Linked DNA regions of Homo sapiens. The protein of the gene in region 2 purifies or fractionates together with the protein of the main gene of each other region. This does not show direct contact. Each region holds a gene or a part of one and is shown on either strand. Other genes may lie near its edges. The genes, in order: ACACB and BCDIN3D.

Region 1 (3,814 bases), about 59 Mb from region 2:
AGGAATTAGTTTTTGTGTTTTGTTTGTTTTTTAGTTTCTAGATAATTCCAATATGCAGGCCAATTTGAGAACTGGTGATGCAGCTGACTTCTACCTTGACCATCTCAAAAGCAAAACCCTAGCTAGTGTTTCTGATTCAGCAGGTCTGCAGCAGGGCTTGAGGATGTGCATTTCTGACAAGTTCCCATCTGATGCTGATGCTGTTGGTTCAAGAACCAGGCTTTGAGACTTTGGCTGAGATTTGAGCAGACATTAAGTATAGAGACTTTTCAACAAGGAAAATGTTTTAATACAGTGAAAAAAGTAGAATACAAAACTGCATATTCACTATAAATTAACCACATAAAGACAGAAGATGAGAGGGAACTATACCAGAATGATAGAAGCTGCAAAATTACTTTTTTGGGGGGTTCCTTTTCTAATTTTCTGCAATGTGTAATGGCACTTCAATAATTTGTTTTAAAATGTCAGTAATACAGGGAGTTAGATCGACCAGAATTGCCTAAAACTAATTTTTTTTTTCTCATAAGGACCCAGATAGCTGCAAATTGGAAAAAAAGAGCTCTTGTATCAGTAGGAATGAAACTGGCTTCATATTGAGAAAAATCCCCCACCAGAGACCAATGGGAATGTTAAAATGACTCCTGGCCCCCAAGGATCCACTCTGCACAGGCCCCTTTTTGGTCACCTTGTTGAGAGCACTTGCTCCTGTGAGGATGATGTGGGAATTCTCCACCTGGATCACTCGCTGGCCCAGCCTCACCAAGTAGGCCCCAATCCCAATGGCTCGGCAGGTCACCTGTGGAGAGAGGACCCCCTCTGAATTCTGGAGAGTGGCGAGGGACCCACCCCCCACAGCAGGGAAGAGTCCAGGAACCTGCTGGGACCAAATGGAAGTTATGTTTTGACCAATGGCAACCCGATTTGGAGCCAAACCACAGTAGAGGCAAAAGCCTATTCTTCAGGCCACTTTATTGAGCTTGGATTCCTATCTGGAAATAACATGGTTAACAAAGATTGCTGTAAAGACAAGCAGCAGACAGTGAATGTTTCAGATTTTAAGAGGCTTGTGTGCAGCTCTTCTGAGCCTGGGCATTCATGGGCCATTGCAGCCTCTTAACAACCAAAAGGACACCTAGGAGTGCATGTAAAAACTGGTGAAATTCAAAATAAGGTCTGTACTGAGTTAACAATATTGTGCCAATGTCAGTTTCCTGGTTTCGATAATGTACTACGGTTATGTAAGTACCATAGGGGAAGCTGGGTGAAGGGTACTTGGAAATTCTCTGTAGTATCTTATAACTTACGGTGGGTCCTAGATGACTTCAAAATAAAAAGACTATACATATAATCTAGAAAACAAGCCCAAGGAAGATGCTTATGACCAACATTTTCCACTTGGAAACTGAAGATTCAACATTGCATGTACAAATAAGGCCTTCCAAGGCAGTTTATCATTAAAGAGTACTATTATTCCTGCTGCTGCTGCTGTTAGAGTAGGTAGTTAAGCAGACATGAGCAGGGCAGGAGAGGAAGGCAACCATCAGGTGATAGTTAGGCAGTTGCTAAAGTGTCTCTCTAAAATTAATATTGGTCACAGCTGGCTCCAGGGAAAGGCAATCTCCTGATAGATAGAAAACACCTGAAGCTAGTGATAAGCAGCTTCCCCATAAGATCTCAGGAGCTGGGTGGGTGGGCTCAAGCATGCATGCTAAGAGGTAAGATGGCAGAGTTTATCTGGTACCGTGCCCTTCTTCTAGGAACACTCGACTGGTAAAGGAGGAAAGCCTCAAGTGAGCATGCACACAACTTCAGTAAACACACTGTTCATGCGGCCCCTCCTAAGTGCTGGCAGACCACGTGCATGCAGACAGCCCACCCCAAGGGAAGAATCAGGGGAGAAGAAACACAAACCCTGGAATCATGCCAATGCATAAAACCTCAAAAGGGTTGGATGAGGCACTTGGATCTCTCAGGTTGCCTTGTTTGGCCCTCTTCCAAGTGTACTTCATTTCATTCTTGCTTTAAAACTTTTTAATAAACTTTCACTCCTGCTGAGAGACTTGCCTCGGTCTCTCACTCTGCCTTAGACCCATACAGATTCACCACCACAAACACTACTACCACTACTACTACTACCACCACCACTACTACCACCACTGCTAGTACTAGAATTACTACTAGTACTACTACTACTACTACAGTAGTACTACTACTAGAAACAGAAAACATTTTTGGAAAGGCCATGGGGATGGGATGGGGACTACTCCTTATATGCCAGTTAAAGTCAGAGAAAAGTTCTTCTAAACATTCAGTACCTTGAAAATAAGATGAGATTGGACCCTGATTCAAACAAACCACTAGAAAAGGGTATTTTGAGATAACTGTTAAACCACACTGGGTTTCAATGATATTGCTGATTCTGTTGGGTGTAATATTAGTATTTCAGTTATGTTTTTAAAAACCGGGGGAAGAGGGTGAGAGTCATTATCTGTTAAAGATCTACCCTTACGTATTTATGGATGAAAAGACATGATGGGGGCTGGCTTTAAAATACTCTAAAACAGGTGCAGGGGATGGGGGTGAGATTGAGGAAATATCAGTGGGCTGGCATGTGGTAACTGTAGGAGGTATGTGACGGGCACATGGGGCTTATTATTGATTCTCTCTAATTTTGTGACAATTTTAAAGTTTCTATAATGGAAAGTTGAAAAGTAAGAGAAAATAGAAGAAGACTCACCAAGCTAATGGTGACGATCTCTTCGTAAGCCAGAGAGGACTCCCCAGCAATCATGCCTGAGCCCCTCAGATTCTCCACGCCCAAGCCATCATCCTTCCCGATGATATCCGTGATCATGTATCTTCAAAAGCAAGCACAGGTTAAAGGCTGGGCTCTAGCCCCAAAAAATCCAAGGTGGATGCATTTCCCAAGAAGGGACTGACTGGGCAGCAAGGTGAGAGATTGGAAGCAGACAAAGCATCCAGAGGCAAAATGAAATTGGCATCTAGAACCCTCAAAATGAGTGCTAAGATTTCTAAAAGGGCAAGTGCAGCATCAACAATCATCACCCTGCTCTGTAATCCCAGCAGTTTGGGAGGACGAGGCGGGCAGATTACTTGAGGTCAGGAGTTTGAGACCAGCCTGGCCAATATGGCGAAACCCCATCTCTACTAAAAATACAAAAGTTAGCTGGGCGTGGTGGTGCACGCCTGTAATCCCAGCTACTTGGGAAGCTGAGGCAGAAGAATCGCTTGAACCTGGGAAGTGGAGGTTGCAGTGAGCCAAGATTACACCACTGCACTCCAGCCTGGGTGACAGAGCGGGATTCTGTCTCAAATAAATAAATAAATCATCACACTGCTCCCATCTGTGAAAGGAAAATAAAAACTAGGACCACGATTCACAATGCCAAAAGGAACAATTTAAGCTGAAGCTGAGTTGTGCAAGCTGCCTTTCCTTTTGTTTCTTTAGTAAGCAGATAGATACAGATAAAAGCTGAAATATCTCCACAGGTAGTTCCTCTATGTCCACCTTATCTTATAGAAAGTGCTGACTTACTGAGCGCAGGAAGAATACATAACTGACTTCCCCTGCCTGCGCCTTTTCTCCTGCAACATGTGATTACCAGAACTTCCCTCTTTCCCCTCCAGCCTGCTTTTCTCCTTTAAATACTGAAGCCCTCCAAATCATCTTTGAAGAAAGGTACACGCCACAGACGGTTTCTATGATTCCGTGTTCTTTGCTTCTGGATGTGTCCCTAACCTTGGCAAAATAAACTTCTCAATTGATTGAGACCTGTCTCAGATACTTTTT
Region 2 (4,270 bases):
CAGTTAAAAAATGAAGGCACCCAGCTTGGTGCACAACATGGATGATTCTCACAAATACATAATGTTGAGAAAAAAAGCAAGCCATAACAGAAAATATATGAAAAGCATCCATTTACATGAAGCTCAAAAATGGGTGAAATTAAAGTACATCATTCAGGGAAGAAAAACAGTACACTATAAAGAAAAGCAAGGAAACAACAGAAGGCTAGTTGTTACCTCTGGGTAGAGATAGAGGTTTATGAACAGGAAAAGGCATATAGGGGAAGTTGTGGGGTGCTGAAAATGTTTATTATTTATTTATTTATTTATTTTTGAGACAGGATCTTACTCTGTTTCCCAGGCTGGAGTACAGTGGTGTGATCACTGCAACCTTGACTTCCCAGGCTCCAGAGATCCTCCTACTTCAGCCTTATGAGTAGCTGGAACCACAGGTGCACACCACCATGCCCAGCTAATTTTTGTATTTTTGGTAGGGATGAGATTTTGCCATGTTGCCCAGGCTGATCTCAAACTCCCGAGCTCAAGCAATCCACCAGCGTCAGTCTCTGAAAATGCTGGGATTACAGCGTCAGCCACTGCACCCAGCAGTTTTTTGGGTTTTTTGTTGTTGTTTTATTTGAGACAGGGTCTCACTTCGTCACCCAGGCTGGGGTATGTGGCACAATCAAGGCTCACTGCAGCCTCGACCTCCTGGGTTCAAGCGATCCTCCTCCCTCAGCTCTCTAAGTAGCTGGGACTACAGATGCCCACCACCACACCTGGCTAATTTTTTTTAGAGATGGGGTTTTGCCATGTTGCCCAGGCTGGGAAAGGAGTTTTTAAAATTGAAAAAAAAAAGCACCCATAAATTATGGTACATCTATCCAATGAAACATTAGGAAGCTGCTAAAAAAAGAATGTGGTGATATAAATAATCTCAGAATTAAAAGCTACTAATAGTGTGTTACCATTTGTAAAACTAAAAGGGGGGTACTTATATGTACGTAAATGCTGGTATACACACAAGACTGATACCTAAGAAATTATAAACAGTAGTGCCACTGTGTGGGGGAAAAGGAGGATTTAGGGTTGGGAGTAGAGACTTACTTTTTAGTATATACCCCTTTGTAGTTTGAATTTTTTTGTTTTATCAAGCGCAAGCATTTTTTTTCCCTTTCCTGACTACAAAGATCCACAAGAAAAAGCATTTTTTAAAAACTGCAAAACAGAAAGCTCCATAAACGTACAGCCAGGTTTGGGAACCACTACCCTAGTTAGCTGCCAACTATGTCTTTACCTCTCATGTGTATACTACTCTCAACTTTAAAATCTCTGGTGGTTTCCTAATGCCTTTCGTGAAATCCCAAGCCTTAACCTCAGTCTCTCTTTTCCATTGTTTTTACCCTCTGACTTCCCGTATCATCACAGCGGAGAAATTTTGCAGGGGACACAGGACATCAACCCATCTCCTCATTCCAGTCTTTGAGACTGTATCCAAATGTCCCCTTCCTACTATCATCTGAGTCCCACAAGGTCTGAAGTCGTCCCCCAAAGTCTCTTCTGTAAAAGGACAGCAACGTAACAGAATTGTCCCCCGCCCTCCAGATGCTGGACTGGAGTGATGGAGGGAGCGCAGAGAGGGTACTAACTTTTGAAGCATTTGCCGTGGTAAGTTCAGACTGCCTGCTAGTGTAGAATATCCCAGTGGCTACAAATAGGTGTGGGAGAGACATTTCCTTATTTTGCATGTGGTTTGATTATAATCATATGCCTAAGAATAGTTTGCAGCAAGAAGAGTGGCAGTGCCGCCCTTCTCCATTCCCTTGGGCAAAATGCTTTATTTGCTTCTCGATCCTCTCCACTGTACTCTGTCAACTCACTGTTTTGTTTTGTTTTTGAGACGGAGTCTCGCTCTGTCGCCCAGGCTGGAGTGCAGTGGCACTAGCTCGGCTCACTGCAAGCTCCGCCTCCCGGGTTCACGCCATTCTCCTGCCTCAGCCTCCGGAGTAGCTGGACTACAGGCGCCCGCCACCACGACCGGCTAATTTTTTGTATTTTTAGTAGAGACGGGGTTTCACCGTGTTAGCCAGGATGGTCTCGATCTCGTGACCTTGTGATCCACCCGCCTCGGCCTCCGAAAGTGCTGGGATTACAGGCGTGAGCCAGCGCGCCCGGCCTACTCACTTTTTTTGAAATAAACATGCAGGTCCCAGGGTCTGTCCTGCACTGTATAGCACACATGAGTCTCAATATCAGGCATGATTCTGTCACCCTTGGCTCTTCTCTCCCAGTAAACCAAACCTAACCCCATGTTCCCAAACGTGTGTCTCTGGAAGCCCCCTCTCCCCAGCCAAAGCGCCAGGCACGCTGGACAGAGGCCACCCTAGATACAAGGACCGTTCCCACCTGGGGTCTGGCCCTGAAAGAAAAGTGGGAACGTAGTCGACAAGGACTCCTCTCCAAGAGAGATTCCTAAGACAGATGGTGGAACCCTGGCGGGCAGGCAGCAGCGGCACTGGCTCAGTCAAAGCCACGCTTTATACTCGTTTTGGGAAAGTTTCGATGGGTGTTAGCCCAGGCCAGAACCACAGTGGATGTGTAGGCAGCCAACCACTTGGCTCCGGATGCTCCAATCCCTCCCCTGTCACTCACCCCGGAGTTACACCCCACGTCGAGCCCCAGAATCGGCCCGTTCTCGGGACTCTCAGGAAAGAGCTGTCGAAGCAGCTCCGGGGGCAGGAGGCGGAGCCGTTGCTCCGGAGGGTGGAAGCGAGAATAATGAGGAAAATTTCCGAACGGGGCGGCGCCAGGTGCCAGAACTCGCGATTCCTCTTCCGCTGCGGTCTCCTTAACACTCCCTCCATCCAGTTCCGTGGGCACCGCCATTAGCCTCAACACAGCCTCTGGGCCGTGGCGGAACCGGAAGCCGGGAACCTGCTGTCGGCGTGGGCGGTGGCGGTGCCAGCGCGCGTGCGTCGAACGGCTAGGGCGGGTGGCTAGAATTCTGCGGTGAATCAGAAAAGCTGTCCTGATTTCCTCTCGCTGTATACCTGGAGCCGGCGAGCGCCTGGGGCTTGCCTTGTATTATTGAACCCTCATCACAACACTGGGAGGGGATTAGCAATATCATCCACGTTTTACAGGGATGAAACAAACTCTGAGGGCTAAGTGTCTTGGCCAAGCTGACATAGTTTGAAACTTGGGCTACTTGACCCAGAACAAGTATACTAGTTTGTTGGGATCTTGGAAATCAATTTTAGTCCAATTTCCTTTCTTTATAAATGCAAAAAGTGAGACCGAGAGAACTTACTTGTCTGGGGTCATACATTGAATCTGTGACTCAAAAACTTCCACCCGGTTCAGGAAAGGGTAGCCAGGAGGTGCAGGTCACTTGCGAAGCCAGCCGACTCAGCCCTGTCCCCCAGGGGCAACTGTAGACCATGAGCTCCTTGAGAGGCAAGGACCGTGCCTTAAGAGCCAGCACTTAAAGAGTGCTTACCAGGCACCAGACACCCTTGTAAGCTCCTTAGTCAATCCTCTCACCCCGTGAGAAAATGACCGTATTATTATTCTTTTTATATAGATGAGGACACTGGAGTAAAACAAAGTAACTTGTCCAAGATCCCACAGTTAGAAATGATGGTACTAGGATTCGAACCCAGGGAGTTTGGATCCAGAGGATGTGCTTGCAACGGTGTGTTATTCTCAGCCTTGAGTCTCCTATACTTAACATGGGCCTGGCACAAAGATGCTCAACAAATGTTGTTGAATGAAAACTCAATAGAGAATACAATAAGGCCAGATCTGTTTGGGGAAACTTTAAATGGAAGGGAGAAAGGATGCCAACTGAAGCAGACATAGTGGAATGGAGTTGGGCAAGATGTGACTCAGAGATTGGAAATAACAGAGCTGATAAGGAGAGGAACTGAAGGGTCAACCTAGGTAGCAGGTTCCAGTCAAAAGCCAGGATGGCCCAGAATATCCGTCAGGGTCAACCAAGCATCAGCAGAGTTGTGCAGGACCCCCAACCCCACCCCTGCACCTGGCCCACCCATCTTAAAGGGGTATCCTGCTCCATGAGGCTGGCAGTTCGGTAAACTTCTTATAAGGCACTGGAGCATGACTCCTGCAAACAGTACCATCAGGAGTTAAAATAAGCGCTGTTTTCCTCTCAGTTTTTACTTTATATTTTCTTTTTCTTTTCTCCTTTTTTTGAGATAGAGTCTCACACTATTGCCTGGGCTGGAGTGCAATGACATGATCTCGGCTCACTGCAACCTTTGCCTCCCAG

Evidence for each region.
Region 1: the proteins of BCDIN3D (region 2) and ACACB purify together in Homo sapiens (affinity purification with mass spectrometry; one large-scale study listed by BioGRID and IntAct). This does not show direct contact.

Annotation. Positions count from the first base shown.
Region 1 is NC_000012.12:109,249,031-109,252,844, reverse strand, and holds part of ACACB (acetyl-CoA carboxylase 2), read right to left. Parts: intron 2,862-3,814; coding exon 2,741-2,861; intron 800-2,740; coding exon 689-799; coding exon of another isoform or gene 524-688; exon of another isoform or gene 267-523; intron 1-266. UniProt on the Homo sapiens protein: Mitochondrial enzyme that catalyzes the carboxylation of acetyl-CoA to malonyl-CoA and plays a central role in fatty acid metabolism.
Region 2 is NC_000012.12:49,840,223-49,844,492, forward strand, and holds the start of BCDIN3D (RNA 5'-monophosphate methyltransferase), read right to left. Parts: upstream 2,885-4,270; 5' UTR 2,866-2,884; coding exon 2,632-2,865; intron 933-2,631; exon of another isoform or gene 1-932. UniProt on the Homo sapiens protein: O-methyltransferase that specifically monomethylates 5'-monophosphate of cytoplasmic histidyl tRNA (tRNA(His)), acting as a capping enzyme by protecting tRNA(His) from cleavage by DICER1.